Regions from separate parts of the Homo sapiens genome. Here all the other regions are linked to region 3. The links come from fine-mapping of genetic effects on gene expression. A gene starts in region 3. Each other region holds a variant in brackets. All regions are shown on one strand. Distances are from middle to middle. Region 1 overlaps SRBD1 (S1 RNA binding domain 1). Region 2 has its middle 7.4 kb from the start of TMEM247. Region 3 holds the start of SRBD1 (S1 RNA binding domain 1). Region 4 overlaps SRBD1 (S1 RNA binding domain 1). Region 5 has its middle 100 kb from the start of LINC01121.

The links. PIP is the estimated chance that this variant, and not a neighbour inherited with it, causes the effect. A credible set is the group of variants that fine-mapping cannot tell apart.
Region 1: its variant is the best candidate, but not a certain one, in a credible set for the expression of SRBD1 in T cells (TOPMed, PIP 0.59).
Region 2: its variant is the best candidate, but not a certain one, in a credible set for the expression of SRBD1 in prefrontal cortex (ROSMAP, PIP 0.89).
Region 4: its variant is the best candidate, but not a certain one, in a credible set for the expression of SRBD1 in whole blood (TOPMed, PIP 0.59).
Region 5: its variant is the best candidate, but not a certain one, in a credible set for the expression of SRBD1 in monocytes (BLUEPRINT, PIP 0.58).

What each region holds. Positions count from the first base shown.
Region 1 is chr2:45,539,326-45,545,890 of GRCh38, forward strand. All of the region lies in intron 14 of SRBD1 (S1 RNA binding domain 1), which reads right to left. Among named protein-coding and RNA genes, the nearest start is that of SRBD1, 69 kb to the right of the region's middle. The variant T/C (reference allele first, on the strand shown) is at 2,893.
Region 2 is chr2:46,468,853-46,475,417 of GRCh38, forward strand. No RefSeq gene overlaps it. Among named protein-coding and RNA genes, the nearest start is that of TMEM247, 7.4 kb to the right of the region's middle. The variant C/T (reference allele first, on the strand shown) is at 3,880.
Region 3 is chr2:45,608,619-45,615,183 of GRCh38, forward strand. SRBD1 (S1 RNA binding domain 1) reads right to left here and starts at 2,649. Exons shown (of 21, transcript NM_018079.5): 1 at 2,601-2,649. RefSeq lists an enhancer at 2,300-2,469.
Region 4 is chr2:45,473,089-45,479,653 of GRCh38, forward strand. It overlaps SRBD1 (S1 RNA binding domain 1), which reads right to left. Exons shown (of 21, transcript NM_018079.5): 16 at 3,905-3,987. Among named protein-coding and RNA genes, the nearest start is that of SRBD1, 130 kb to the right of the region's middle. The variant T/A (reference allele first, on the strand shown) is at 4,002.
Region 5 is chr2:45,355,735-45,362,299 of GRCh38, forward strand. No RefSeq gene overlaps it. Among named protein-coding and RNA genes, the nearest start is that of LINC01121, 100 kb to the left of the region's middle. The variant G/C (reference allele first, on the strand shown) is at 3,848.

The DNA.
Region 1 (6,565 bases), 69 kb before region 3:
ATTTTCAAGTTTCATGGCCTCACAGAGCTTCACAGAACCAGAAGAATAAAATAGAAAACCCAGGATCCACCTAAGATATAGATGTTAACAAAAGATCCCCCACCTACTCTCACATATGTAAAGCTAGGACTCCAGAGTTAGGTTAAACCCTCAGTGTAAGAATAAAACAGAACTATAACTCACTATACTCTACCCCCAGGAGATCACAATGAAAATGGACTATCTCAAACTCAGTCACGGGCTGATGTAGCGGGGAACTACTGATGAGAATATGGAACTATAAGCCATCTGTCTGGTCTGCAGCCTAAATTCACACTACCTGGGTGGTCAGAAAAAAACTCAAGCCGAGAATTTAATTTAAGTGATCCCAAACTGGTAGTATCTAAGGGAGTGTAGCAGAAGCAAATGCAAATCCTCTTTGAAGCAACTTACCATCAGTCCAGGCCTAAATGAATTCCCACAAAGTTCCACCAAAATAAAAAGCTTACCTTAAGAACTGAACAAAAAAGGAAAGAAAGCATCACAAAGCAGAACCAGCAATTACAGCATATAGCAGAAATAAAATTACAAGGATTCTAGAATTATTACACAGATTGTAAAATGCAAAATTTAACATGGTTTAAAAAAAGACAGGCTTGAAAATATAGCCAGGAAAAAAGTGACAGAATCATCAAGCAGATTTGAAAAACACAGAACTTCTAGATGAAAAATAAAACTGAAATTAAAAATTGAATGGGCCAGGCATGGTGGCTCACGCCTGTAACCCCAGCACTTTGGGAGGCCATGGCAGGCGGATCATGAGGTCAGGAGTTCAAGACCAGCCTGACCAACACAGTGAAACCCTGTCTCTACTAAAAATACAAAAATTAGCTGGGCATGGTGGCAGGCGCCTGTAATCCCAGCTACTCAGGAGGCTGAGGCAGGAGAATCACTTGAACCCAGGAGGCAGAGGCTGCAGTGAGCTGAGATTGTGCTGCTGCACTCCAGCCTGGGCGACAGAGAGAGAGTCCATCTTAAAAAAAAAAAAAAAAAATTAAATGAGTGGATGTCAATTCTCCAAAAATTAAATTACAGACTTAATGAGTTAAAACTATAAAACTTCTAGTACAAAACAGAAGAAAATCACAGTAACCTTGATTTTGCCAAAATTTCCAGAATAGAAAACAAAAAGCAAAAACTATACCAAAAAATTGATAAATTGGACTTTCTCAAAACTAAAATTTTTGCCATTCAAAAGATCCTGTTTAAAAAAAAGTGAAAAGTCACAGACTGGGAAAAAATGTTTATGAAACATATACCTGACAAAGGGCTTAATTCAGAATAAATAAAAATACTCTTATTCAATAATCACAAGGAAAACAATCCATTTTTTTAAATGCAAAGATTTGAACAGATACCTCACTAAAGAAGATACATGGATGGCAAATAAGCAAATGAAGATGCTCATGATCATTAATCACTAGGAAAATGCAGATTAAAACCACAATGAGATATCACTACATATCCACTAGGGCAGCTAAATTTAAAAGGCTGACCATACCAAGCACTGACCATAACTTCATAATTCCATTGAGGATACAGAGAAACTAGTGTTACGGAATCCTTAGGGTGTCACTTTTCCAGCCAGACACCTCTGTGGCCAGTGGTGCCTTTGTCCGAGTTTTGCTCAGGCCCCCTGGGCTCGTTCCACTCACTCAAGCTGGCAGGCTGTGCTTGGCTGGTGCTACTGGCCCAGATCTCACCCTGCCAAGGGTGAGCCAGGCGTAGTGCGGTGAGCGGTGTGTGAGTGAGCACAGGGTCCGGCCACTGTGCAGAGCTAGGCGTGCCAGCTGTGGCAGGGCAGGTGGTGCCATGCAAGGCTGTGGCTGGACCAGATATATCACATGCAACTACCACTGCAGACACCCACATCTGGACGAGGGGAACACAGTGGTTCCTGGAAGGTGGGAGATGCCAGGAACCAGAGAGTCCCAAAGAGGGTGCCATAGCCCTGGCTTAGGGAGCACCTAGGTCTGGGCTCCCCAAAGGGCTGCAGCTCTTTTCTCCTTCTCAAGGTCTGCAGCATGGCAGGCAGGAGGGCATGTTTCAGCCCTGTTTGTGTTACAGCTGTTTCAGATCCACCATTTGGTGGAACCAGAGTTCTTGTCCCATGTCCAAGAAGAATGAGGTATGTGGACAACTGGAGGGTGAGCAAGGCAGAGAGGAACTTCACTGAGTGACAGAACAGCTCTCAGAAGACCCAAAGCGGGCAGCTCCTTTCCGCAGGCAGGTTGTCCCAATGAGTGTCTAGCTCTCAGCAGAGAGGAGACCCACAGTGGGTAGCCCCTTTCTGCAGGCAGGTTATCCCAATGAGTGTCCAGCTCCCAGTGGAGAGGAGATGGGCAGTGGGTAGCCCCATTCTGCAGACAGGTCTCCTGACAAGTGTCCAGCTCTCAGCAGAGAGCAGACCCAAAGTGGGTGGCTCCTTCCCATAGCTGGTAGTCCCAACATTTGTGTCAGTCTGGCTGAGTCCAGGGTTTTTATGGGCTCAGAAGGGAGGAATGCATGCTGATTGGTCCATGGGCAGCCATGGGCATGTCTGGAAAAAGTACCATAAGTTCACACTCCCGGCCACAGACTCCACCCAGAACTGGCAACCTGGCCTCCAGACTTCACGTAGGCCCTGGCTTGGAGGTGGGGGTTTCACTGAGACCTGCCCCTTGCTGCACAGGAATGTCTGCCTCCCACCATCAGCATGCATCCATGGTGCATGGGCTGTTTGTGCCAGGGGACACCTGTAGGCCTGTGCCAAGCTGCCCTTAGCCATCACCCCACCCCAGCCTCACTCCTGTGTTGGTTGGTGCCCAAAATCCTGAACAGGCTGAGGCAGCAGGGGCTGGTGTCAGCACTGCC[T/C]CGAGTGCAGGCACACCTGTCCAGGTCGCAACAGTGCCTAGGCTCGGCCACAACTTTGCTCTGTTCTGGAGCGGGTGCTGGGAGCAGGGAGAGGCCAGGGAGGTGGAGCAGGTACTTCCGAGCCTGCAGGGGAAGGGGCATCGCAGGCCCCTGAGAGTGCAGGGATGCCCAGGTCCAGAGCTGTAGCTGGGCAGCTGCAACTGCGCCCAGGAGCATGGGGCTCCTCTGCCCCACTAACCTGGTAGGAGGTGGGGCTCCCATCACCTGTGGAGCATGCAACCCAAGCCACAACTCCCCTGCTGCAGCCAGTGTCTTCCCAGCAGCTGCTCCAGATGGGCTGCCACTGCCACCACTAGAATTCTGATACATTGTTGGTGGGAAAGTAAGATGGTACAACCATCTTGGGAAAAAGCTTGACAGTTTCTTAAGTTAAACATGTACCGTATACCATATACCACACAACACAGACTTTCCACACCTAGCTATTTACCTAAGAGAAATGACAGCATATATCCATACAGACTTGTAAATGAATGCTCATGCTGCTTTATTGGTAGTAGCAAAAAACTAGCAACAACTCGAATATCCATCAACAGGTGATTGAATAAACTAATTGTGATACAGCCAAACAATGAATACTGTTCAGGAATAAAAAGAACCACTGGTTTCTGCAGCAACAAGGATGAAATCTCAAAATAATCATGCTCCATGAAAGAAGCCAATAAAAGATTATACACTGTATGATTTCATTATGTATAAATCTAAAAAACACAAACTAATGTATAACTACAAAAGCAAAATGAGTGCCTACCATATGTCAAAAGATTGAAAACTGCAAACCATTCTAGCATATACTTTAAACAAATGACCCATAAAACTGTAGAATTTTTCACGAACATTTTCAACTTTCATTTTTTCATGAACATTTCAACTTCAACTATCACAATTCAGTATGTGATAACTGAGACTCAGCATGGTTACATTCTGCAACTTAACTCCAGTTTAACTTTTTGCTCCTTTGGTAATTAGAATTTGCACCTTTGGATGACTTGCCCCCTAATATGTGTAAGTATCATGATTCGTAAGGTATTTTAAGGGTAGGGAGAGAAATGAATGAGAGAAAAGACAGATGAATGGGTCAGGTTTCCTGGGGTTTATGAATTAGGATATATATCATGGCATTTGTTAACCTATGGCAGCATGTCAGGGCAAAGAGTGTTGGAAGGAACAGATAAGAGGAAATGTGCTGGTAGATATGGCTGGAAAAGGTTTTTCAGGATGAGTGGCTGACAAGATTATAGATTAACCTATCAGATTATCTGTTCAGAAGGTATTAAAAATGGCTGCCAGAGAAAGACTGGAGATTTCAATTTCAGTGTAACTTCAAAGTGTAAGATGAGAAAACATGGTTTTCTCAAACAGGCACTTTGAATTGGCAAAATGATAATAAAATGAAATTAAACAGCTGATTTTTCTAAAGCACTTGCTATAAATTCCAATTAGATATCTGCATCATTTAAAAACTTCAAAAGCACATATTAGCAAACAAATGCAAAAAGTACATTAAAAGACTAATACAGTGTAAGTAGAGTTAAATCAGAACTGCAAAAATGGTTCAACTGTAGAAAATAGCTACCATAATTAACCACACGGGTAGATTTTAAAACCCAAATAATTATAGCAGAAAGGAGAAAACAGACTATAGGAGAAAGACTACCATCCAAAGCAAGTCTTAAATTGCAACAAAATGGGGCTCTTCTGAAAGAAAATGCCTAATAGAGACTATATTCATAAAAGTGCAAAGAAGGCACCAAAGATCCTGGCTAATACGGTGAAAACCCATCTCTACTAAAAACTATAAAAAAATTAGCCAGGCATGGTGGCGGGCACCTGTAGTCCCAGCTACTCGGGAGGTTGAGGCAGGAGAATGGCATGAACCTGGGAGGTGGAGCTTGCAATGAACCAAGATCGCGCCACTGCACTCCCGCCTGGGTAACAAAGCAAGACTCCGGCTCAAAAAAAAAAAAAAAAAAAAAATTTATATTAATGGGGTCTCCCTAAACTCAAAGATTAGCCCACACTTAACATATTTACTACAAATAGCCTTAAAAATAGGAGATACATAACACATTCCATTTTAAATCTTCACAGTGGTCAATGGTGCTAACAGGTAAGTAACATTTCCAAAGATGAAGATGCTAAAGCTAAAAGAGGATTAAAACTATATGGCTAATCAGAGGCAGTAGGTGGCAGGCCTGAACCTAGGTCGTCTCTATAGCCCACATACTTCACTTCATACCACAGCACCTATGGTGAGGCTCAACTAAAATGGCATCTAATTCATATCCATTAATAAGACTGAACATCTCATGATACCACAATACATAGATTTTACACAAGTACGATAGACATTATTACTATCCAAAGTGGTAGATTTTACTATCATCCCTATTGCATCAAGGTGAAAATAAACTTTATGTAAGTTTATTAATTTGCATAAGAAAATACTGCATCTAATTTCACAGCACTTTTAAAGACATATAATTTATATTTATAATAAAAGTACGTATATAAACAAATACAAACACACTCATAAAAAAACATATTGTTTATTAAACCCTTAGTGTTTTAATTTATGTTATCTCACTTTTAATACTGTTAAAAAACCTGTAAGGTAGGTATTCTTTTCCCCATTTTAAAAATGAAGGAAAGTGAAGCTAAGAAAGGCTAAGTAACTCTTCAAAACCTACATAACTAGTAAATGATTAAAACAAAAGATGAGGCCGGGCGCGGTGGCTCATGCCTGTAATCGCAGCACTTTGGGAGGCTGAGGCAGGCGGATCACGAGGTTAAGAGATCAAGATCATCCTGGCTAACACGGTGAAACTCCATCTCTACTAAAAATACAAAAAATTAGCCGGGTGTGGTGGCGGGTGCCTGCAGTTCCAGCTACTCGGGAGGCTGAGGCAGGAGAGTGGCATGAACCTGGGACACAGAGCTTGCAGTGAGCCAAGATTGTGCCACTGCACTCCAGCCTGGGTGACAGAGCGAGACTCTGTCTCAATTAAAAAAAAAAAAAAAAAAAAAAAAAAAAAAAACAGATGAACCCAGATTTGTCTGACCCCACAGTTCATCCTTTCCTTTCTAATAGTACATACTGCCTAAAGTTCAATAAAGGGATATTCTATAAGCAAATGAAGAAAAAACTGAAGACATCTTCACTACTTAATATTTTTTATGATTTGAAAGTTGTACTTATAACCACTACAAATGTATGCAAGATATTTACATGAAATTAATGTGAACAAGTTAAAAAAAAATCAGAGAAGGTACCTGAAATAAACTGAACCAGCTACATCAGTGCTTGTGTTAGTTTCTCAAAAGGACTGGGTGCACGTTTGCAGTTCCCAGAATAGGGAAGATCCACCGTATTTCCCAGGCCAACTTAAATTACAACCAGAGAAAGAGGGAAAAATTCTGCAGTGGATGTTTCAATCTGTTTCCTTCTTGAATCATGATCCCATGGCACCTATCGGTTTGTTCCTCACCTTCTCTTACTCCCCTTGTTACCCTGAGTTTGTTTTTCTGACTGACTCTGACTACACTCTTGGCACTCTTGACTATAATAACTGCCTGGCCTTTACCTTTTGGCCTACCTACACAAATCCTAGAA
Region 2 (6,565 bases), 860 kb after region 3:
AATTGAGCCATGACAGTGCCAATGCACCCCAGCCTAAGTGACAGAGTGAGACCCTGTCCTGAAAAAAAAAAAAAAATCTTGAAGAACAAGGTATTTGCACTGATGAAGCTACTGTATTCTCATTTTTTCTTTCGTCTTGTTCTTTTTAGCATCTACATGGTATTCATAAGGATGCAGCACTAATTGTTTAACCAGATCCCTTCTGGTGGAAATTTGTTTCCAGTCTTTTGCTGTTACAAATAACGCTGTAATACACCTCTATGGATATGCTAATTTTTATGAGGCAGAAAATCCTCTCACCTCTGAAGAGTTACAGGCCCCAAAGACCATCTTTGTAATATTGTATAAAGACACAGGGAAAGGAGATGGGAAGCCTGCATTCCAGTCATGGAATGCTCAACCACTAACATCCTTTGCATGCAGAGACGCATCACCTCATCTGCCCGAGTGACTCGATTTTCTTGTTTATCAGGCAGCATCACTGTACCTGCTTTAAATGGCCTCACAAGGGCATTGTGAGAATCAAATGAGATAATGTACATGAAAGCCTGTGCGCGCTGTACTAATACACAAGTCTCTCATCTGGTTGTGAAATCTAGAATTGATACGTTGCTCTGTGAATGTGCCCATCAATCTTCAACATGGTGCTTGCTACTCCCACTGTCCCTTCTAAGGGAAACTGACCCATCTGCAGCTCCTGCTGACAGACAATCCGAGGCTGCTGTGCACTGTGCCGTATCACCCTGCCCTCCCCATCCTTCCACTTCACCAGACTGAACTGGGCTGGGCACCTTCCCCATCTGATAATGATCCTCATCATCTGTTGCCTCTATGTTTCCTCTCTGCCCTTCCCCTAGGAGGCATACCTCCATGAAACTGCATTAATTCATTAACCAAAACAATACAAAGCAACACAGAGTCTAGCATTCTCATTTTCCTGTCTCTAGATACCAGTCCTTCAGGGAATTTTCCAGAAGTTGAGAAGACTGGTTGCATGAGCCTTGGGTTGGTTTGGCACTCGTGACAGTGTGAAAAGAGCCTCCGCCTCCTCCACTGAGCTCAGAGAAAGGTTTATAGTAAAGCCATTTGCAGGGGTAAGGGAGACAGGATCACATGGTAGCCCAATAACAGGCTTCCCTAGAATGAAAAGCTCTGTCCCAGTAGAGATAAGCCAGGTTATTCTGATTCCTGCCCTTGGAAAGGTCTACCAGGAAATCATGAGTGACTTAAGTAGGACAAACAACACAGAAGGCATACCGAGAGGCCATACAGTTGAGGCTATGAAGAACCATTAGAAGCTGAAGTTATGAGTAAGCTGAAGTCAGGAGGAAGCAGGAACCTTGCCTACAGTGAAGTATGAGGTTGGAGGTTGTGGGTTGACGGGGGTGAGGAAGGCTGTTGATGGGAAGTGAGGGGACACGGAGAAGCAGAAACACCGAAATCAGCTGAGTTATACGAATGACAAGGCACATGTGAAGCTGCACCAACTCTGGCTGCTGGTCTCAGAATTGCCCTGAATCCAGCACAGTCCCTGCTAGGCCAGCTCATCCCTCATCCCTGTTGCTGGGCTCCCACGTGTTCTTGTCTCCTTTACCCTTGCATATGGCTTTACTATACACTTCCTTTCTCTGAACTCAACAGAGAAAGCAGAAGCTCTTTTCATACTGTCACCAGTGCCAAACCGACCCAAGGCTCGTAAGACCTGTTTCCTCCACTTCTGGGAAGTTCCCTAAAGGACAGGGGTCTAGAGACAGGGAAATGAGAATGCTAGACTGTATGTTGCTTTGGAATACATTGCTCTGCTTAATGAATTAGTACACTTTCATGGAGGTCTGCCTCCTAGGGGAAGGGCAGAGAGGAGAAACAGAAGGCAACAGATGATGAGGATCAATTGACACTTTACTCATGCTGATCCTTTCCTCTCACCCAAATCCCACCCACCCTTCATGTTCCCTCTTCCACCAAACCTTCCTCAGCTACTCCAGGCACATCAACCCTGATCCTTTTTTTTTTTGAGTTAGTCAGACTCTGTCACCCAGGTTGAAGTGCAGTGGCAAGATCACAGCTCACTTAAGTGGGCTCAAGCGATCCTCACACCTCCACCTTTCAAGTAGCTAGGACCCCGAGTACATGCTACCATGCCCAGCTAATTTTTTTTTTTTTTTATAGAGGTGGATTCCCACTATGTTGCCCAGGCTGGTCTTGAACTCCTGGGCTCAAGCGATCTTCTAGACTCAGCCTCACAAAGTACTGGGATTACAGGCATGAGACCCTGAGCCCTGACCTCTTGACTCCTATGGTACATTGCCTGATTGGCCCCAGTTCTTCATCCCCTATATCGAGACCTTTTATCTTTCTTTGTGGTTCCTCCCACTAACTGGGCAGAGTACGTTTCACCATCCTTTGAGTTTCCCCATACAACTGGCTTTCTCCAATAACATAAGATGGAAGTGATGGTGTGCCAGCTCCAAGGCCTCTTGTACTTCTTCCATCCCCGAGCAAAGGGTATGCCTAAGCTACCCCACTATTCCCAAGAGGAAGATAAGAGACACATGAAACAAAGCTGCCTCGGCCAAGCTCCCCCAGTTGAATCCAGCCTAAATCAGCCTACCTTTAGATGTCTGAGCTAAGGAAATGTTTATTGTTGTGGGCCACTGATCATTTAGGGTTGTTTGATCTATAGCTGACAACTACCCATAGTACTTATTGTGCATTTCCATACTTGGTGATTTAACAGCAGTGGATTATTTGTACATATGTCATTGTTTCTTTAAGCAGATCTCTGCTGGTTAAGATTGCCAGGTTTAACAAATAAAAATACAGGATTCCCAGTTAAATTTGAATTACAGACAAATAACTTTTTAGAAATCTGTCCCATCCAATTTTTAGAACATATTTATACTAAAATTTATGTAAAATTCAGATTTAACTGGGAATCCTGTATCTATCTGGTAATCCTACTCCTAGTAGTGCCTGAGGCAGGATAGATATCTTACACAACAGCTGTGAGATCATTTACATGGTCACCACCATAATGTTGGGAGGGGAAAGCCATGGTTCAGTTAACGATTTGCAAAGACAGAAAGTGAACCTTGAGCATTCTCCTCTCCCCAGTGGCAAAATCTACTGCTCAGAATAATGGTGATCATGGTTCTCTTTTGCCTAGTCCCTGTATGGGCAGCTTGTGGGCTAAACACCCTATCTAATTTATTATTATACTTAAGTTCTAGGGTACATGTGCACAATGTACAGGTTTGTTACATATGTATACATGTGCCATGTTGGTGTGCTGCACCCATTAACTCATCATATACATTAGGTATATCTCTTAATGCTATCCCTCCCCCTTCCCCCCACCCCTCAACAGGCCCCAGTGTGTGATGTTCCCCACCCCGTGTCCAAGTGTTCTCATTATTCAATTCCCACCTATGAGAACATGCGGTGTTTGGTTTTCTGTCCTTGCGATACTTTGATGAGAATAATGGTTTCCAGCTTCATCCATGTCCCTACAAAGGACATGAACTCATCATTTTTTATGGCTGCATAGTATTCCATGGTGTATATGTGCCACATTTTCTTAATCCAGTCTATCATCCATGGACATTTGGGTTGGTTCCAAGTCTTTGCTATTGTGAATAGTGCCGCAATAAACATACGTGTGCATGTGCCTTTATAGCAGCATGATTTATAATCCTTTGGGTATATACCCAGTAATGGGATGGCTGGGTCAAATGGTATTTCTAGTTTTAGATCCTTGAGGAGTTGCCACACTGTCTTCCACAATGGTTGAACTAGTTTACAGTCCCACCAACAGTGTAAAAGTGTTCCTATTTCTCCACATCCTCTCCAGCACCTGTTGTTTCCTGACTTTTTAATGAT[C/T]GCCATTCTAACTAGTGTGAGATGGTATCTCATTGTGGTTTTGATTTGCATTTCTCTGATGGCCAGTGATGATGAGCATTTTTTCATGTGTCTATTGGCTGCATAAATGTCTTCTTTTGAGAAGTGTCTGTTCATATCCTTCACCCACTTTTTGATGGGGTTGATTTTTTCTTGTAAATTTGTTTAAGTTCTTTGTGGATTCTGGATATTAGCCCTTTGTCAGATGGGTAGATTGTAAACATTTTTCCCATTCTGTAGGTTGCCTGTTCACTCTGATGGTAGTTTCTTTTGCTGTGCAGAAGCTCTTTGGTTTAATTAGATCCCATTGGTCAATTCTGGCTTTTGTTGCCATCGCTTTTGGTGTTTTAGTCGTGAAGTCCTTGCCCATGCCTATGTCCTGAATGGTATTGCCTAGGTTTTCTTCTAGGGTTTTTATGGTTTCAGGTCAAACATTAAAGTCTTTAATCCATAGTGAACTAATTTTTGTATAAGGTGTAAGGAAGGGATCCTGTTTCAGCTTTCTACATATGGCTAGCCAGTTTTCCCAGCACCATTTATTAAATAGGGAATCTTTCCCCATTGCTTGTTTTTGTCAGGTTTGTCAAAGATCACATGGTTGTAGATGTGTGGTATTATTTCTGAAGGCTCTGTTCTGTTCCATTGATCTATATTTCTGTTTTGGTGCCAGTATCATGCTGTTTTGGTTACTGTAGCCTTGTAGTATAGTTTGAAGTCAGGTAGTGTAATGCCTCCAGCTTTGTTCTTTTGGCTTAGGGTTGTCTTGGCAATGTGGGCTCTTTTTTGGTTCTATATGAACTTTAGAGTAGTTTTTTTTTTCTAATTTTTTGAAGAAAGTCATTGATAGCTTGATGGGGATGGCATTGAATCTATAAATTACCTTGGGAAGTATGGCCATTTTCACGATATTGATTATTCCTATCCATGAGCATGGAATGTTCTTCCATTTGTTTGTATTCTCTCTTATTTCCTTGAGCAGTGGTTTGTAGTTCTCCTTGAAGAGGTCCTTCACATCCCTTGTAAGTTGGATTCCTAAGTATTTTATTCTCTTTGAAGCAATTATGAATTGGAGTTCACTCATCATTTGGCTCTCTGTTTGTCTGTTATTGGTGCATAGGAATGCTTGTGATTTTTGCACATTGATTTTGTATCCTGAGACTTTGCTGAAGTTGCTTATCAGCTTAAGGAGATTTTGGGCTGAGACTAAGGGGTTTTCTAAATAAACAATCATGTCATCTGCAAACAGGGACAATCTGACTTCCTCTTCTCCTAATTGAATACCCTTTATTTCTTTCTCCTGCCTGATTGCCCTGGCCAGAATTTCCAACACTATGTTGAATAGGAGAGGTGAGAGAGGGCATCCCTGTCTTGTGCCAGTTTTCAAAGGGAATGCTTCCAGCTTTTGCCCATTCAGTATGATACTGGCTGTGGGGTTGTCATAAATAGCTCTTATTATTTTGAGATATATCCCATCAACACCTAATTTATTGGGAGTTTTTAGCATGAAGGGCTGTTGAATTTTGTTGAAGGCCTTTTCTGTATCTATTGAGATACTCATGTGGTTTTTGTCTTTGGTTTTGTTTATATGATGGATTATGTTTATTGATTTGCATATGTTGAACCAGCCTTGCATCCCAGGGATGAAGCCAACTTGATCGTGGTGGATAAACTTTTTGGTGTGCTGCTGGATTCGGTTTGCCAGTATTTTATTGAGGATTTTTGTATCGACGTTCATCAGGGATATTGATCTAAAATTCTCTTTTTTTGTTGTGTCTCTGCCAGGCTTTGGTATCAGGATGATGCTGGCCTTGTAAAATGAGTTAGGGAGGATTCCCTCTTTTTCTATTCATTGGAATAGTTTCAGAAGGAATGGTACCAGCTCCTCTTTGTACCTCTGGTAGAATTTGGCTGTGAATCTGTCTGATCCTGGACTTTTTTTGCTTGGTAGGCTATTAATTATTGCCTCAATTTCAGAGCCTGTTAATTGTTCTATTCAGGGATTCAACTTCTTCCTGGTTTAGTCTTGGGAGGATATATGTGTTCAGGAATTTATCCATTTCTTCTAGATTTTCTAGTTTATTTCCATAGAGGTGTTTATAGTACTCTCTGATGATAGTTTGTATTTCTGTGGGATCGGTGGTGGTAGCCCCTTTATCATTTTTTATTGTGTCTATTTGAGTCTTCTCTCTTTTCTTCTTTATTAGTCTTACTAGCACTCTATCAATTTTGTTGATCTTTTCAAAAAACCAGCTCCTGGATTCATTGACTTTTTGAAGGGTTTTTTGTGTCTCTTTCTCCTTCAGTTCTGCTCTGATCTCATTTATTTCTTGCCTTCTGCTAGCTTTTGAATGTGTTTGCTCTTGCTTCTCTAGTTCTTTTAATTCTGATGTTAGGGTGTCAATTTTAGATCTTTCGTGCTTTCTCTTGTGGGCATTTAGTGCTATAAATTTCCCTCTACACACTGCTTTGAATATGTGCCAGAGATTCTGGTGTGTTGTGTCTTTGTTCTCATTGGTTTCAAAGAACATCTTTATTTCTGCCTTCATTTCATTATGTACCCAGTAGTCATTCAGGAGCAAGTTGTTCAGTTTCCATGTAGCTGAGCGGTTTTGAGTGAGTTTCTTAATCCTGAGTTCTAGTTTGATTGCATTGTGGTCTGAGAGACAGT
Region 3 (6,565 bases):
CCAAACCGTGCCTTTAACATTCAGATTTCTATAATAAACTGCCTGTCTCTGAAACTATTTAGATGTCTCACAGTTAACTTAACACATCCACAATGGAACTCTTGATGACCATTTCTTGCTCTAAAACCTGTTCCTATTCCAGTCCTTCCCATCTCAATAAGTGGCACCCACCTATTTGCTAAGCCAGAACCTTGAAAAAAAAAATTTTTTTTTTTTTTTGAGACGGTCTCACTCTGTCACCCAGCCTGGAGTGATCTCAGCTCACTGCAAACTCTGCCTCCCAGGTTCAAGCAATTCTCCTGCCTTAGCCTCCTAAGTAACTGGGATTACAGGCGTGTACCACCACACCCAGCTAATTTTTCTATTTTTGATAGAGACGGGGTTCGTCACGTTGGCCAGGCTGGTCTCGAACTCCTGGCCTCAGGTGATCTGCCTGCCTCGGCCTCCCAAAGTGCTGGGATTACAAGTGTGAGCCATGGCGCCTGGCCAGAAAATTCTTTAACAGCTTCATTGACATATAATTGACATGCAATACACTGCACATGTTTAAAGTGTGCAAATTTGATGTTTTGACATATGTATACATATCACTACAATCAAGAAAATGAACACATTATCATCCTCCAAAGTTCCATTTGCTAAGTCAAAATGTTACAAATCTTTTTTTCTTTCATCTCACATATCCAGACTATTAGTAAGTCACATAAGATCCTCCTCCAAAATGTCTTGAATCTCCACGATCTTCAGTGAGCCTTTAGTCCTCAACCTCCCTCACTTGAACTACCACACTCGCCTCTTAACTGCCCTCCCTACTTCCACTCTTGCCCCTGCAACTCATTCTCCACTTATCAACTCAAGATCATTTAGAATATGCTTTAGAAACAACGAATTACTTCCCACCCCATCCTTCACTTAGAATCAAGCCACATTTTTATGAGGCCTTTGAAAAGGCCCTGTCGGACTGAGCCCTGCTCACCTTTCTAACCACCTTTACTACTTGCTGGAGCTCCTCAGCTCTTGTCATAACATTCTTTCCCACCTCAGGTACTCTCTGCCTGGAGTATTCTTCCCCCTGCTTGTCAATTGGCTGGCTCCTTGCATCCCTTAGATCTTAACATTTCAGGCCTAAAATAGGTTTCTCAATTATATTTTAAAAGGAGCCTATTTACTTCCTGTATACAGTAGGTTATAACACAATCTGTAATTATTTTTATTTTACTTGTTTATTGCTTGCACTGCTGTCAAGAGAGTAAATACCATGAAAGAAGGAAATGCATGTGCCTTATTCACTTCCATATCATAGAACCTAGCACTTAACAGATGCCCTACAACTATTAAATGAACATAATATGTACAAATATGGTCTCTACAGAGGAATATACATTTATTTTCCACCACTCTTAGGCAATGCCACACATTGCATTCATCTCTTTCTGAAGAAGTGATGGCACATAAGAATATTCCTATTCTTCAGTGACTTGGGATTTTTCCCTCCTTTCAAACTATCTTAATCACTGTAGGCACATGAGCATATTCCAAACCAATAATTTGGAGGTTGCTATGATGTTACTAAGGGAAGAGCCACTAAACTAGGACGACTGCAAATCAGGACAAAGGGGCAAAAGGACGTGCACACTAACAAATACTAAATTAAAATTGGAAAAAAAAATTTAAATTCAAGAAGGCAAACAAAGGAGGACAATTTCTTAAGAAGCACCTAAACAAGTTTCCATGAAGGACCAACAGAGTGCTTGAATGTTAGCAGATTCCCAAGTCACAAAAACAAAATACTAGAGCTGAAAGAACCTGAGATCAGACAGTCCCGCTATATTCAGAAATCTGAGACCCAATGAGGTGAAACAGTTTACTCAAAGGGGAAAGATATGTGGCAAAGGACTATAGCCCAGTGCCTGGAACACCAAGACTAGTCTCGTTTCCCATTCCACACACAATATGTTAATGACATGTCACGTGAGGGGTTCGAGGAAAGTTGCCTAGAGAGTTCCCAATTCATTCCTTTCCTCCGGTTACTGAGCGCCTCCTACATGCCAGGCGCACTACAGAAGGTGCAGTTGATTCAGACAGGGCCACCATGACCGTGAAAAGGGTGCTTCCTCTCCCACCTCCGATAATTTTAGGTATAAAAACAATCCAGGTAAATTAGCCGGGTGTGATGACGGGCGCCTGTAGCCCCAGCTACTCGGGAGGCTGAGGCAGGCGAATGGCGTGAATCCGGGAGGCGGAGCTTGCAGTGAGCCGAGATCGCTCCACTACACTCCAGCCTGGGCGACAGAGGGAGACTCCGTCTCAAAAAAAAAAAAAACAGGCTTGCCCAGGCTTTTCTATGTCTGTTATGCGCTAAGAGCTGCAGCAATTTGGCTGAAAAGAGGTGTCACGAGGTAGCTAGGAGGGGTTTTCGGGTGGTCGGTTGTGAGAGACCGCTGACAGTAAAATGTAATGAACTTCTCACTTTTAAAAAAGGGGTGTTATTGCCCAAATGAGCGCTCAGAACTTTTTTAATGGCCCCAAAGATCCCGGAGCCCGGACGCCGGGCTCTTGAGAACCCGCAAGACGACCGCCAAGGCGCACGCACAGCTCACCTTCCCGCCCGGCACGTCAGAAGACCCGAGATTCCGTGAGTGCCACCGCACCTTCCGGTTCCCGCCGGAAGTTTTTCAAACGCCAGAAGGTCCGCCTCGCTTCTTCCGGACCAAGTTAGCCACAGACCTCCAAGGCGCGGCGCTACCGAACGGGGCGGAGCCAGGCTGGACGGAGGCGGGGCTAGAGCGAGGATCCCGAGGGAGCGCCGGGGTGGGGCTGGTTCGTAGAAATGAAAAATGACTTTTTTTTTACGTGTTATTTACCAAGAACACTAAACTCTTAAGCCCACAGATACAGCCAAATAAATTAGATTATAAAAGTAGGGAAATAAGGCTGCTGTTGTCTACATTCGAATTTAGCAGATCAAAACCCCATGGATTTGTTTTAGAAAATTCTAAAAAGCAGCTTTCCACTGCTAATGACTTATTTCCAGGGACTCTGAGTACTGAAGAGCCTAGCAAGTTATTGAAATGACCTGTGACCGTGCCTTGTTGCAGATCTACCGGAAGTGAGCATAGATTTTACTGGATAATTTTTGTGATTGGGGGAAAAAAAAAAGGATTCTTTCTAAATTTAGTAAATCTAATCTTCTATATCTGAGATTGTTGGCCAGGAAAGATCAGTTTCCGAGATTGTTTAGGGATTTTTTTTTCCTTTTAATTAGCACAGTCGTATGTTGCCTTTAGTGATGGTTCCAGAAGGCCTAGAATTGTCTACTACAATCACAGTCTCCTTCACAATTTATGGTCCTGAAGAAATACTAGAGAACACCTTACCGTTCAGGATTGTGGGAAGAGAAACCAGATCATAGAAATCAACAACAATAATGTACTACTTACTATTCACCTACTTTTGATGTTGCATTTGCTACTCAGGTTTATGGTAAGGGGTTGTCTTGGTCAATTTTCTGCTGCTGTAACCAAATACCATAGACTGGTAGATTTATAAAGAAAGAGATTTGTTTGGCTTGTAGTTCTGAAGGCTGGGAAGTCCAAGACAGAGGGCATTATTGTTGTGTCAAAATATGATGGAGGGCATCATACTGGGGTAGGGGTGGGGGAGGCATGTGAACCCAATTGACTCCCGAAATAACTAACCCTCCTGTGATAATGGAATTAACTCATTCATGACCTAATCATTTCCTAAAGGTCCCACCTCTTCATACTATTACAATGACAAGTTTCAACTTGAATTTTTGAAGGGGACATTCCAATCATTGCAGAGGTAGTAAGGGTAAAGGTGAACTAATATACTGCAAAGTCTTTTGACATAAGTCCTGCCCTGGAGGAATTTACGACCAAGAGTAGGAACCAGATACAGCCAGAGGAAACAGACACCCAAGCAAAACAGTCTAGCTTCAAGGGTTGGGTATGCAGGTAGTAGCCACACTACAGTGAGGAGGAGAGTAAGAGTGGGCCAGCAAAGCATTGAAGCTTGACTTTCCTCTCCCCACAAGGGATTTTTGCCTTACAGCTGGGGAAGAAAAAAAAAATCACAAAAATAAATAGCCTGTTAAGATTTTAGACATCAGACATCTGGGGAAAATAAAATCTGAAGCAGGTTCTCTAAAATTAAAGTATGTAGGTAGTGGCCTACTCTAAAGGCCAATAAGGACTGTCCAGAGAATATTTCCCTTGGAATTCTATAAGAGAGTCACTCCCACTACACGCTGTCAAGGAAAATTTGTAATCACTTAAGTATAAAACAGGCCCTCCCACAAAAACTGCCTTTTCTGTCTAGGACATTGCCCAATCTATTGTTTACTTTTGGATCTCAAGTGCTGAATTCCAAGAAATTCATGGGTTTAGACTGAAAGCCTGGAATAATCCGGACACCCACCTGAGACTATGCAATAGGGTTTGGGAGTAATGAAAACATGTTTTGGATTTGATGGAGGTTGTTTTATCCCTCCAAAGTATATAGCTCTTCCCATGATATTCACTGATACATTATCATTTGTATGTTATTATCTGTTTTCAAGTCCTTCCCCTATGGGTTCTAGCTCCCCAGGGCAAATGTAATAATAATAGTAATAACTTACCTTTATTGATTACTTACCTGTGCCAGGCACTAAGTTAATGCTTTTAGATGTATTTATGTATATAATTCACATATTACCCCAATGCAATATTGCTATTAAACCATTTTTATAAATGAGAATACCAGGTATAAAGAAGTTAAATAATTCATCTAAGGTCACATCAGCTAATAAATTGTAGATCTGAGATTCAAATCCAATAATCTGCTTTACTCCAAAGCAAGTACTCTGAAAGGTATCCACATACAATTTGCTGTCTATCCACAGGGGATTGGTCTGAGGACCCCCCACAGATAGCAAAATTTACAGATACTCAACCAATCAGTGATAGAAAAAGTTGGCCCACCACATCTGCAGGTTCCATATCCATGAATGCAGATACAGATGGCCAGCTGTACCACAAACTCAAAGCAAAGACCTTTTCTCGCTCCACTATGGTGGCCAGTGAGACTCTCAATGTTTAAGGTGCTCCAGAACTGTCGAATCTCTAAATACTCTAAATAAAGTACTGTCTAACCACCTGAAACATAACAAAGCTATTCTCTCTATTGGCCTCAAACTAAGTTTCATAAGAACAAAAATTCTTAATATATTAATAGATGCAACTGTTTCACCTACTAATAGATATTTGGATCTAGGAACTAACTCTTGGTAATTTTTTATCTCCCCCTCTCCAACTTCTCCCTCCACCTACACAGTGCCTAATAATGCTTAACATATAATAGGTACTCAATAATATAGTAGACTAACTCCTGGACCCAAAAACATGTCTAAAGTAAAAACAAATTTTCCTCCCCTCTCCACCTTCTCCCGCCACCCACACAGTGCCTAATAATGCTTGACATATAATAGGTACTCATTAAAAATAGTACACTAACTCCTGGACCCAATAATATGTCTAGAGTACAAACAAATTTCTCTTATGAGAAAAGTAAGTTAAAGCTCTTGACACAGAAGGTGGGTTGCCATTTTAAAAATCAAGTGTACTTATGAAAATTCAAACATTTTATCTCTGAGAGTCAATCAGTGTGATGGTTAATTTTGGGTGTCATCTTGACTGGATTAAGGGATGCTCAGACAGCTGATAAAACATTACTTCTGTGTGTGTCTGTGAGAGTATTTCCAGAAGAGACTGACATTTGAATCAGTAGACTAAGTAAGGAAGATCTGCCCTCACCCAATTTCGGTGGACACTATCCAATTGGCTGAGGCCCAGATAGAACAAAGAGGAAAGGAATATTTTCTTTCTCTCTCTTTTGGAGCTGGGACACACTTTTTCTCCTGCCTTTAAGCATTAGAACTGCATGTTCCTTTGGACTCCAGGACTTAAATCAGTGTACCCTCTCAGCCCCATGTTCTCAGGCTTTTGGCCATGCAGTGAGAGTTACACCATTGGCTTCTCTGGTTCTGAGACCTTCAGACTTGGACTGAGCCCTACTGCCAGCTTCCCTGGCCCTCCAGCTTGCAGATGGCCAATCACTGGACTTCTCAGCCTCTATAATTTTGTGAGCTAATTCCCTAAAAAATATTCTCATATATCTTTATGCTGTATTTATTACACAAACACACACACACACACCCTACTAGTTCTGTTTCTCTGGAGAATTCTAATACAACTAGCAAAGGCAAAAATGATAATAATAATGGCTGTTTCAGATTAAAGAATGAGCAAACAAACTGAGCCCTAGTTCAAAAATTTGCATATTTAATTAGCCAGGCATTGTAGTGGGCACCTGTGGTCCCAGCTACTCTGGAGGCTGAGGCAGGAGAATCGCTTGAGCCCAGGAGGTGGATGTTGCAGTGAGCCAAGATTGCGCCACTGCACTCTGCACTCCAGCCTGGATGACAGAGTGAGACTCTATCTCAAAAAAAAAAAAAAAAAAAGTATGTATTAGCTCCTATCTCCCCTCTTTTCCCACTGTCAGA
Region 4 (6,565 bases), 140 kb before region 3:
TCCTTATATTTTGTTGTTTATTTCCTATACTTTCTTATTTTCTTTTCTCTACCTTTGGATGAAATTATAAACTTTTTACATTTTACTCTCATGATTTATATTAAATATCTTATTGGTGGTTGTTCTTCATATGTTTCAGGTTATATTTTTAATCAAATTCTAGAGTTAATTTATATCTGAATCTTTTTCCTGAAAAAGAATCTTAATACTTTTTATCATTTCTTTTTCTTCTACTCTCCCATGTTGAACTGATCTGATCTAGACTTAAATATTTAAAGATTAACATTATAGATTTTAAAAACTATCAGGCTCAACTATACATTTTACTGTGTGTACATGTTTCCCATGTTATGTCTTTCCCTTCTTTGGACACTCCCCTGCTTTTTGGAAGGGAGTACTTCCATCAATTCTTTCAAAGAAGGTGTGAAACAATCAGAGAAGGTTCAAAATTGTTTTTATTTTCCACTCACACTAAATTGATGGTTTGCCTGATTTAGAATTATGAGTTCAAAATGTTTTTTCCCACAACTCCACAACTACTGCATTCTATCTTCTATCATTTATTTTTTATCAATAATAGGACTGTTGTCAATCTCATTCTTTCCTTTGCAGATAAACTGTTTGCTCTCTGAATACTTTTAGTCAGTTCCTCTTTATCACGTATTCTGAAATTTCATAAGCAGGAATTTAGTGTTGGCCTTTTGTTATTCTTTACTTCTGCATTCATAAGGTGTTTTCAGAAGACTTGTCTGTCTTCAGTTCAGGAAAATTTCCTATTACTTCTGTGATTATAACTCCATACTATTTCAATTTTACATCAGATGAACGCTGAAGGTTTAGAACGTCCTCTGTATCATGTGACTTTTTGTTCATGCTTTCCACCTTTTTCAGTTCAAAACTGCATTCTGAAGGAATTCAACCTTCCAATTCATTAATTTGCTTTTAACCGTGTCCACTCTATTTAGTCCAATTATGCATTTTAATCCTGATAATTACATTCTTAAATTCTAAGATATTTGATTGGTTTGAATTCATTTTAATACATATTTCTTTATAAATGCAATAATCTCTTTTCTCTCTATGAATCTTACTTTTACTTATTTCAAAGTCTCTGTTACTTATTCATTGTCTCACTCGCTATTACTTTTTGTTTATTAAGTTTGGTGCCTCATTTGTCTACCATAGGTTTTCCTCAAATGTTTAATCATTCTTGGTAGTGAGATCGTTTCAGAGTCCCTAACTGTCTGTCTGTGTATGCTGTTTCTGTTTACTATTCCCCACCTCCGGTGATAATGTGGGAAATGTGGGACATCATGCCAGGTGTCATGTACATGGCAGGAATTTATCTTCTCAGGATGAGGCTCCTTGAGCTTCCTGACATTCGAAGGTCTCTTGAGCTATCTCCCAGCCTCTCTGGCCTATGTTAAGGTCAGTGCTTCAGCTTGGATTCACAGTATACTGGAGGAGGAGGTCAGTACAGGCCTAGCTTTGCTATATGTATCTTCTTATCTAATACTTCAGACCCTCTCCCTACTATTTGAATCTGACTAGTTTGGCTCTACCGGGAACTGCACCTACCTCAAGAACATAATGATACACAATGATCTGTATATGTTTTGAACTGTGACTCCACCAGGTTTTATTTCTCCATGAGTGTGATTCCCCATGCTTAGTATCTGTCAGGAATTCCTGAGATTTCCATCCACTAATGGGAGGGACCCTTTCTTGTTTTCCCATGCTGTTATCAATTTATTCAAATAAATATGTATTTATATAGGTACACATGTACACCTTTTCTGTCAACTCATGGAATTAGGAGTTCTGAATATGCAGCTGATGATGGTAGTGTAATTAAAGAATATCATTAATTCAGCCCACCATCTTGATGACGTTCTTAGTTTCATTATTTGCTGAACAGTGAGTAGTCCAATGTTAATATGGCTATTTTTTTAAATCTCAGACTCATATATCCAACTCCTACTTGACATCTTTCCTTGGATTTCTTATAGGCATCTCAAACTTAACATGTCTAAAACTGAATTACTGATCTTAACCCACCAAACCTGCTCTACTCAAGCATCATCCACATATCAGAACCCTTGGAGCAAGTTCTTCATAATTCCTTTCCCTCACTTATCACCACACAAACCCTGCAAAACAGACTTGACTTCTTTCCATCTTTACTGCCATTAACTTTGTCCAAGCACTATTATTTCTCACCTGGGCTAGTACAAGAGCCTCCTAGCTGTTCTATTGCTTCTCTTCTTCCTAAGTCACTCTTCCCAGATCAGCCAGAGCCAATGCTTAAAAATATAAATCAGATTGTGCCACCCCCCCTTGCTTAAACCTCTTCTATTACTTCTCACTGTTGTTAAAATGAATCCCAAAGTCTTTCACATTAAACGTTATCTCTGAATCCCAATCTGGAGGTTAGGTCTCCACTATTTACTTAAAGATCTCTTTGAAGTCAATAGCTTATTAGCCTGCCCAGGTTTCATAAATTTGGAATCTTCTCTTTATTCCACTATCTTGCCAAGATGCTCCATAACTTTATCTTGAATGAATATAATTCCTCTTCACTATAATGCCTATATCACAAAACTGTTATAGCTGTACTTTTTCTTTCTCGAGATGGAGTCTCGCTCTGTCACCCAGGCTAGAGTGCAGTGGCACAATCTTGGCTCACTGCAACCTCTGCCTCCTGGGTTCAAGCGATTGTCCTGCCTCAGCCTTCCACGTAGTTGGGACTACAGGTGCGCGCCACCATACCCGGCTAATTTTTGTATTCTTAGTAGAGACAGAGTTTTGTCATGTTGGCCAGGCTGGTCTCAAACTCTTGACCTCAAGTGATCCACCTGCCTTGGCCTCCCAAAGTGCTGGGATTACAGGCATGAGCCACTGCACCTAGCCAGTTGTACTCTTTAGATACCAGTCATTTCTATCTACTTGTAGCTAGATCAGTCCCTTTAGCAACTATCTTTCTGAAATGAGTAAGTCCAGTTAAAGGTCTGAATGCCTTAGTCCAACTTGCTATAAAATGGAAATATTCCCAGTTGAATCTCAATATATGACAGGTTAATCTAAGCTTTGCTACCATGAGATCTTGGGTAAATGTCTTAAGTACTCCAGGACACTGCCTCTTTTTCTATCAAATGAGGGGGGTAGGGTTACATGAATTCTAAGGTGTCTTCCATATCTAGTAGTCACAGATTCCATGACATAATATATTTCTTTAGAAAAAGTGTAGTATAGTACCTATCATTCAAATCCCATAAAAATTATACAGAAGGAAATACTCTATTTCACATTTAATAGCTTTTGACAAGGAGGAAAACAATGTGACCCAAGCCTTCTGGAGACAACTTCCCCACATACCATTTTGCTATCACCATAAATTCACTCTGCCAAGGTTTAGTGCTGTCTTGAATTGCCCAATGAACACATACAACCTCAAGAATTAAAAATACAGTAACAACAAAAACGAGTACTATTATTACCTACCACTTCTCTAATCACACATAAGATCTACTTATCTACTGTGAAGATCAAGTTCAATGCATGATATCACTATTGTAATTATTTTAGATAGCACCACCATTTTTATAATAATGTTAAAAGAAGAGGCTCTCTCTCCAAATTAGTTATTAGTTTCATCTAGTGTTTTCATAGTCTTTCAATCTGACCACAGTCAATTCTAAGTCTTAATCAAAATCATTAACACGAGAACAACAATGACAAAAATAATTCCCTCCTTCCCTGATGACTTAAAACTCCTACTTTCCACAAACTGTATAACCTTGAAAATGGGAATCTACTCCCACAGACACTTAATTACTATCCCAGGTTTGAGTACTGCTCCTTGTATTGATGGATTTCATAAATTAAATGATCCACATAGCTTTACCTGATACATTCCAACTCCAATGTGCTTTGGCTCAATTTTCACTAGCTCAGCTAATGGATCTTGTACACGCCTTGCTATGGAAACTGAAAAAACAGAA[T/A]CAGAAAACAAGTATGACTTAATGTGAAAAGCAGTACCTAATAATTACTTACATTAGTTTCTCATAATGTAAGTACTTAATCCTGTCCCTCCTCATCATCCCTCTAAAAAAGGCCAACAATTTAAATTTCAAAGTTCTCTTTTTTCCCCACACAAAAAGTAAATGCAAAATTTCATGAATTATGTCATCAGAACTCCTAGGCATTCTTGAACACAAAGTAGTTTGACAGGATTATAGATTTGGAAAAACAAATAAAACGTTTACTCCCTATACTTACATGATTACCTATTCATTCTTCATTCTTTACGTAAAGCATAATAGGATACCTCATGCTTCACAGAGGAAGCAAAACCTTGTTTTAAATAATTCTGCATTATTACAAATATATTTATATGTCAAATATGCTTATTAGAACTCGATCCCCCAAATAATGAACAAGTGACGGAATTACCTCCTTTTTTAAAGTTCCTTTTTTTTAGAGATAGGGTCTCACTCTGTTACCCTGGATAGAGTGCAGTGGTGCCATCTCAGTTCACTGCAGCTTTGAACTCCTGGGCTCAAGCAATCCTCTTGCCTCACCCCTCCAAAGTGTTGGGATTAGAGGCATGAGCTACTGCGCCCAGCAGAATCATATCTTAATGCAACCAGAGATCAAGTTACTTGGCTAATGAATATACTCATGTGGCCTTGAATATGACTGCAAGATTGCCCTGGCAAGTGATCCTCCTTCTGTCCCAACTGCTTGTCTCTTAACACACCATAGTTCTAATTACATCCCTTTCTTGACCATTACAATCCATGCTCAAGAAACTTTAGAGTTAATTTCAAACATTCCTTTAACTGTGTCATGATTTTACTTGTTCGTCATTTATTGTCCTTTTTTTTTTTACCAAATATCAATAAAAATTCACATCTAATTTCGTTTATAAGATAGATTTAGCTAGAAAAAAAAGATAACTATTACAACTCTTATGAATAGTTCTAAAGGCAGCCTCCCTCTCCAGTAGCATATTTACACTGAGTCTTTATATATATATGAACTGCTTCCATTTTCAAAACACATGGAAGCTAATCAGTGTCACCTTCTCATACAGGTTAGATGAAATATAAATTCATTAAGTGAAAATATTAAGACCATCAAAGAAAATCCTATGCCTGTTTCCATGTTAAGCTGTTCAAGGTCTGGAAACAAAAGTCATCTCTTGCAAGTGACTCTCAGATTCTCCAGTCGCTGATTTGTACCACTTCTCTAATCAGACATAAGATCTACTTATCTACTGTGAACATCAAGTTCAACACATGATCATTCAAGTCTTTTTCACATCCTTTATTACTACATCTAATATATAGTGACAATAGCTCCTTGCAAAGCAAGCTTAGAGAACGCTGAGCTGGCGTTACACAATCTATTTTTCTCCCAGAAGAGACGGGGATTCCAAGGCCTTCACATAAACCTTTATTATTTAAAGAAATCAATCACAAAAGGTTAGTTAGTGCAAGCATTGCAGGTGATAGGAGAAATGCTTTCTTCTAATAACCACATTTATAATTACAGATTTAAAGTAGAGATATACTTGAATTTCTCTAAAGCAAATATTATTTCTTTAGCCTAACATTTAAATGTGTAATGCAATAAGAATGATTTTCAACACATATACATTGCCAAAATACTCTGAGTAAAAACAACAACAAAAACCCCCACAACAGTAAACCAAGTCAAGAATTTAAGAATACAGGGATACCTCATTGTATTGCATTTTGCTTTATTGTGCTTCTCAGACACCACATTTCTTCCAAGTTGGAAATTTGCGGCAACCCTGAGTTGGGCAAGTCTATTGGTGCCATTTTTCCAATAGCATGGGCACACTTCTGGTCACTGTGTTACATTTTGGTAACTCTCAGAAATATTTCAAAATTTAATTATATTTGTTATGATAATCTGTGACCAATGATCTTTGATATCACTATTGTAATTGCTTTAGAACACCACGAACCACACCTATAAGGTAACAAACTTAATCAATAAATGATGTCTGTGTCCTGACTGCTCCACCAACTGGCTATTCCCCTCCCTCCCTCTCCTGGGGCCTCCCTATTCCCCGACACACAACGGTATTGAAATCAGGCCAATAAATAACCCTACAATGGCCTCTTAAGTGTTCAAGTAAAAGGAAGAGTCGCACGTCTCTCACTTTAAATCAAAAGCTAGAAATAATGAAGCTTATTCAAAAGACATGTTGAAAGCCAAGAAAGGCTGAAAGGTAGGCCTCTTGGGTCAGTTAGCCAAGTTGTGAATGCAAAGGAAGAGTTCTTGAAGGAAATTAAAAGTGTGACTCCAGTGGACACACAAATGATAAGAAAGCAAAACAGCTTTTTGCTGATATGGAGAAAGTCTGAGTGATTAAACCAGCCACAACATTCCCTTAAGCCAAAGTGTAATCCTGAGCAAGGTCCTAACTCTCTTCAATTCCATGAAAGCTGAGAGAGGTGAGGAAACTGCAGAAGAAAAGTCTGAAAACAGCAAAGGCTGGTTTGTGAGGGTTAAGGAAAGAAGCCATCTTCCT
Region 5 (6,565 bases), 250 kb before region 3:
GAACCATGTCTTATACTGTATTTTGCAAGGTTCATAGTATCTGTCAATAAATATAGAGTGAATGACTCAGCGACAACCAGTGTTTGGAGAGATCCAAGGAGTGAGCTTAAACCACAGAGAAAATGATCTTGAAAATCAAAATGTTGGTTCCCCAGTCAGGACAGCAACGTCCCTTGCCTCCTAGATGGCCCGCCCCATATTACCAAACACATGGCATTGGGGAAAATCAAAGTGTCACAAAATAGTCATGTCTCCTGTCACAAAATAATCAACTCTGTGGTTCAGGTATAACATGGAAACAGTACTAGGACTGGAGCCATCAGTGTGTTCATTCTAGGTCCAGACACAGGCTCCGTGCTTGTGAAGAGAACCCAGGGCTTCTGACTAGAGCACAAGAAGGCCACCAGGACCTGGGCCAGGGACTAGATCCGTGAGATCTCCAAAGTCCCCATGGGCAGAAGCCTTAAGCCACCAAGATGTAAAACTTGATCCTGGATGGGGGGCTAGGAAACCAAGTGGAGATTCCCACAAAACCATGAGACCAGGAAGGGTGAGCTCAGGTGAGGTCTTCACTTCCAGGTTTGTAAGTGTTGGAGAGCCCTATGGCTGTCCTTGGACCTATCCTCTTCTCCACCTCCCTGAGTAACTCTGTCCAGTCCCATGGCCCTCATCTGATCAACGATGATGCCTATATTTACAGCTCCAGACCCAGACTCTTCCTGAGCTCCAGATACTTGGATATCGGATAAGTATCCCAAAGTCAACACGTCCAAAACACATCTCATGATTCCTATCCCAAACCAGCTCCCTCTCCACATTTCCCTTTCTCAGGAAATAGCATTGCTGTTCAGCCACTCTGGCCAAAATCCTAGGAGTCATTTTTGAGTACTCACTTTTCTCTCACACCCCATATGCAATCCTTCAGCAAGTTCCGTTGGCTCCATACTCAAAAGATACGCTGAATTTGATGGCTTCTCATGACCTTGACCACTACGGCAGTGTATGAAGCCAGCCAACCCCACCTGCCTGGGCTACTGCTGCCGTTTCGTGCGTCTTCTTGCTTCCTCCTTTCTCCTCACTAGTCTGTTCTCCACACAGCAGTCATAGTGATGTTTGAAAACCATAAATCAAACCATGTCACTCCACTACTCAAAATCCTCTCGTGGCTTTACTGTATGCCTAGAATAAGATCCCAAACTCCTCCTGTGGACTACAATGCCCCGCCCAGTGTGGCCTCATTTCCTGCCATGCCTTCCTTGCATACTGTGCTCTGGTCACTTTGACCTTCTTGCTTTTCCTTGAGCCCTGTTTCTTGCCTCTGGACCTTTCTACCTCCTCAGTGTTCTTCTCCTGGGTCTTTGTATAGTTCCAACCTCATTTCACTCTCGTGTCCACCGAAATACCTTCCAAAGAGGATCTAGCCCATCTACTCTCCCTTCCCCATGTCCTCATCACTCTTCACCCCCTTTCCTTGTTCATTTTTCTTCATTGTCACTAACTGAAACTATCTATTTTGCTGTCGTTGTTGACATCTTTCCCATATCAGACCCATGAGGGTAGATATTTTGTCTTTTTTGTTATTTGTTATATCCTTAGGGCTTGAATCGTGTTTGGTACATAAGAGGCACTCAAGGAATATTTGCTGAGTAAATTAGTGAATGGATAAATAACCTCTAAACTTAATGCCATATTACTATACTTATGATCACGTACGTAGTAACTCTCATGGAGTAATTTTTAAAACTAAAAGCCCTAGATTTGTAGGAAGGCCTTTCTTTGTGGGGGAAAAATGGTCCCCAAAAGAAACCAAAACAGTAGAGTTGCTAACAGGACAGTGCAGATGATAAAGAGAATGACTAGTTGCCTTCATAAAGCAAAACTCAGGTTTTGCAAGGTTGAGAAAGTGTGGCTGGGCCTTTCCTCCTCCGCCTCATTCTTGTCTCAAAGTTCCCCTACCCCTGCCCCAAGACCTCTGAACTATTAACACTTGCACCCTAGCTCCAATTTCTTACAGCAGAACTGAGACCACACTGGATCATTTCAACAAGACTTCACCAACTCAGGGAAACTGAAAGAAATGCTTGGTATACAGTGAGCCGGGTGCTGTGAGAGGGCACAGGGGAGGAGGAGGAGGAAAGAGCTCTGGCAATGTCCTTCCCTGAGGGCCAGGCTCACTGGCATTGCAGGATGGCCACTTTGGAGAAGACAATGTAAGGTTTGGGAGGTAGAAGGAGGACTTCAAAATGGAGATGGGAAGGTGCTTATACTTCTAATTGTTTATGTCCATCTTCCTCACCACTCATGAGAGATGAAAACTTGAATCCCAGTTTTTACAAGAAAACACCGTGCTTGGAGGCAGGAGTGGCAACAGGTCTGAGTGCCGCAAAGCTGGTGCTTTTTAATCACCTTGGATCCCCATTCCACGAGGACCCATGGAACCAAGGGCCACTTCTCCAGCTGGGGCCTGAGGAACACCGGAAGTGTCCACTTACAGTCTATGGCTTTAAAAAGCCTACAAACATGTGTGCTGGCTTGTTTTAAAATAAATGGTGTCACCCCTGGTTCCCCATGATTCTCACACCAAAGTGGGAGTGGGGGAGCCCGCAGGGGAAGGAAAGCTCTGAAGCAAAGCTGCTCCCTAACCATAAGGCCAGAACCCAGCTAGAAACATGACTGATGATGTGATAAGAGGGTGCCTGAACCATACGGAATGGAGAACAGGAATTCCAAGGTAACTGGCTGCATCTTAGGAACACAGTTTCCATTTACCCACTTGGAACAGAACAATCTGCAGCATAAAAGGAAAGTAAAATTTGGCAGGGCTCATTGTAAGCTGGTGAGGAGGCATGAGTGGAGAGAATTCCTAAAAGAGATCCTAACTTAATCAATCACTTGAAGCAGGAGGCAAAAAGCTGCTTTCAGAAATAGATCAAAAGGGTTGGATTGGCCCAGGCGTGCACACACCGTATCAATCTCTGGCCCAACCGTGCGAGGCCCCAGGCATCACCTCACAAGCGTGCACAGAGCAGCCTGGTTTTATTTGTAAATGCACAGGAACCATCTGAAACCCAACCCCAGGGTAAGGCTGATGGGGCAGGGGCCATGTGGAGTAGGAGTCAGGACCAAATGGAAATTCCCTTGGATTTATTTTCCTCCTGACTTCATGCCAGTGGAACACACACTAAATTCATCCCCAAACTGACAAATTAGTGGGGCCCCATCTAAGAGATGGAAAAGGGCCTGAGGCAAGAAAGAAAGGCCAGGGCTGGCTGGTGCCAAGGACAGAAGACCTGCCTCCCTGGCCTGTACCTGCACGAACTCAACTCCCAGGAACTGAGGCCACTCCTGTCTCTCATCTCCGTGCTCAAGGCTTTGAGCCCAGTATCCAGCCTTAGTTCACCTAACCCTCTGCACATGTAAGAGACTATATTAGTAGCTTCTTTATTTACACAGAAGACATTAATTATATACTTTGTGGTCCATCTTGCTTTTCTCACTTTATATCTTTTTCTCACTTTACAGTATCACTTGGAAATATTTCCATATTAACTTTGGTCCTATGAAAGAATTAAGCCCAAGCACTTTAAATCAGCAATGAATATCTGGAATTACGTTTTCTCCTACGCATTCAGAATGGTACTAGTCACATACAACGCTTGGGAGAATTAAGAAAACAGTCACTCAAAACACTTTCTGTTTTCTGGGGTTTGGATGAGGACGTGGGTTAAGAAAGGCTGATGGGGTATGGTGAACTACAATTTAACCAGTCCTGTATTGATGGACATTTAAGTTGTCCCCTCACCCCTCTTATTTTCCTACTACAAACAATGGTGCAATGAATATCCTT[G/C]TAACTGTAACTTGGAGAACTTTGGTGGATATCTCTGTAGAGTCAATTCTTAGTGCAAAAATGCTCCACAGCTAGATTTTAAGCTCCTTCAGGATAGGAAAATTTTTAAATCATCTTTCTTGCTCCCTCACTTAGCACAGTCAATATATAGTAGGGACTCAATAAATACTCGTTGACACGGATTAGTGAAAAAGATACAATCCATACCCTGAAATAATAGAGCCATAAGCACAAAACAAAAAACAAAAAAATGGTTTATGATAAAGTGGTAAGAAAAGTGGTATGGACCTGGTAAAAAGTGCTGCAGGAATTCCAAATGGATGGTGTTAGGTCTTTGATTTCTACCCTTTTTCCTGCATCTGAATTTTATATAACATTGCTAATTAACATCTCCTTCCAAGAGACCAGCAATGGATAGATCACTCCTGCCTTCTTACTCCTGGAAATAACAAGCAGGTGGAAGAAAAAGAACCTGGTCAGAGCTTATTCCTTTCATTGTAATTTTTGGGAGACATCTAGAACATCACTGACAGGCCTGATTTCAAAACACAATCTTCTACTAAATTGACTGGCTCAAGATGTTAGTAAAAATAAATATATATATGGAAAATGCTAGAATTTGGAATTTCATATTTTCCTATCTAAAATAATTTGGATCAGGGCTAGTTATGAACATATCCCACTGCAAACCGGCAATTTCTAAATTCATACTGTACCACAGATATGAGGATTCCAGGCTAGCTATGGGATTTGGGACAACTGTTGTTCACTTTGATACTAGCTGATATTTCATTAAGATGATGTTATCATTATCTTATTAGCAGCACAGCACAACACTGTGAGATTGTATCACCATTTTGCAAATTGGGAAACTGAGGCACAGAGAAATTGAGTACTTGATATCCCATAATTCCTAAATAGCAGAGCTGGCTTTGAATGTTATAAATGTTAAATGTTAAAACCAGCTTTATAATACAATATTTTACAATATTCTTTCCTGATTTATTAATATTAGACATTACCTATTAATTTCTTATTTCAGTAGATAAAGCTCTCTTCAACCTACCCCCTTCCTTTCTTTCATCTTCTTTTTATAGTTATATTATAATTTTTTGGTTAAATCAATAGTCAGAGTTTACATTTTATATGATAGGGATACTATTTTTTAAAAAATTTAATTAATACTTTTCTTTTTCCCCTCAAATAATTTTTCCCCACAGAAAACCATGCGTATGTTCGTTCACCAAGAAGACAAATATAAGAATGTCCACAGCAGAATTAGTTATAATAACCTCCTACTAAAACCAGCCCAAATGCCCATCAACAGTCAAGTGTATAAATAAATTATGCTATACTCATATAATTGAGTACTCTACATACATAATAAATCAATGAGCTATTTTTATATGCAACAAAATGAAAGAATCTCAAAAACATAATATGGAGCAAAAGAAACCAGACACATCACAGTACATTAATCTAATTATATAACATACAAAAACAGACAAAACTAATACTTCAGTTAGAAATAAGTACAGTGGATGCCCTTGAGGGAGGCATAATGACTGTAAAGAGGTGAGAGGGAGGCTCCTGTGTTCTCATAATGTTCTAGTTCTCCATCTGGGTCCTTTATATATGAGTATATTCGTATTTTCACTTTGTGAAAATGCAACAATATGTATACTTAGAATTTCTGTATTTTTATATATGTGTTTTACTTCCATAAAAAAGTGTTTTTAATCATTATAAAAAGATATTCACATCTTTATTATCTTTTGACCTCCCAGATTTTAAAGATTTTGTTGTACTTGTAACATCTGTTTATCCCTTCACCTCCCAACTTTTATTACTTTAATGCTTTTTCACAATCTCTTGGTTTATCTATGCTTATATTTACATTCTCTTCTGTTATCAAAAACCCTACATTTGTTTTAGTTTTAGTTCTGCAGTTAAATAGACTCAGGGCTCACCACCAGATTATTTTCCTGAAGTTTTCCAGTCTTCTCCTAGGTAATTAAAATGCATGCTCTTATTCATCAAAAAAGCTCAATGAAATAATATTCCCTCCACTATGTTCTCATATATTCAAAACGGTTTGTTGGTTGCTTTAGTACAGTATTAGAATGATAGTTCAAGAAAGTATGTTCTATTGTCTTTTAGTCACTCTGAGGCTTGTCGGTTAAAGCCCTATATTACCTCCTATAAGAAATCAATTGCTTTCTTTCCTTCTTTCTTTCTCTCTCTCTCCCTCTCTCTTTTTCTTCTGTTCTTTTTTCTTCCTTTTTTCTTTCTTTCTTTCTCTTTCTCTTTCTTTCTTCCTTTCTTTCTTTCTCCTCTCTTCTCAAAGGATTCTTTGATGTGAAGTTCAGTAATTTTTTGAGGATATATCTCTGAGTTGACCATATTGGCTCATTTTTTTTTCTGGCTGTGTCCTTTCCATATAAAGATTCATACCTCTCTTTTATTTCAGGAAAGATTTTTTTACCTTTAAATATTTGTTCAGTCCATTATTTCTGCTGCCTTCTTTGAAGACCCTACATTGAACCCCTTGGCTTGTCTTCCGTAACTATCATTTCTCTTCTAAGCCTTTCTACTCATTCATTTGCTTTCATTTCATTTCATTATTTTTCTCATTTCTATTCTGTACGCTAATAGTCTTAAATGAAGAATACATACCCCGGGGCAAAGACTTTCCTAAGGGTATGTAAGCACAGATAG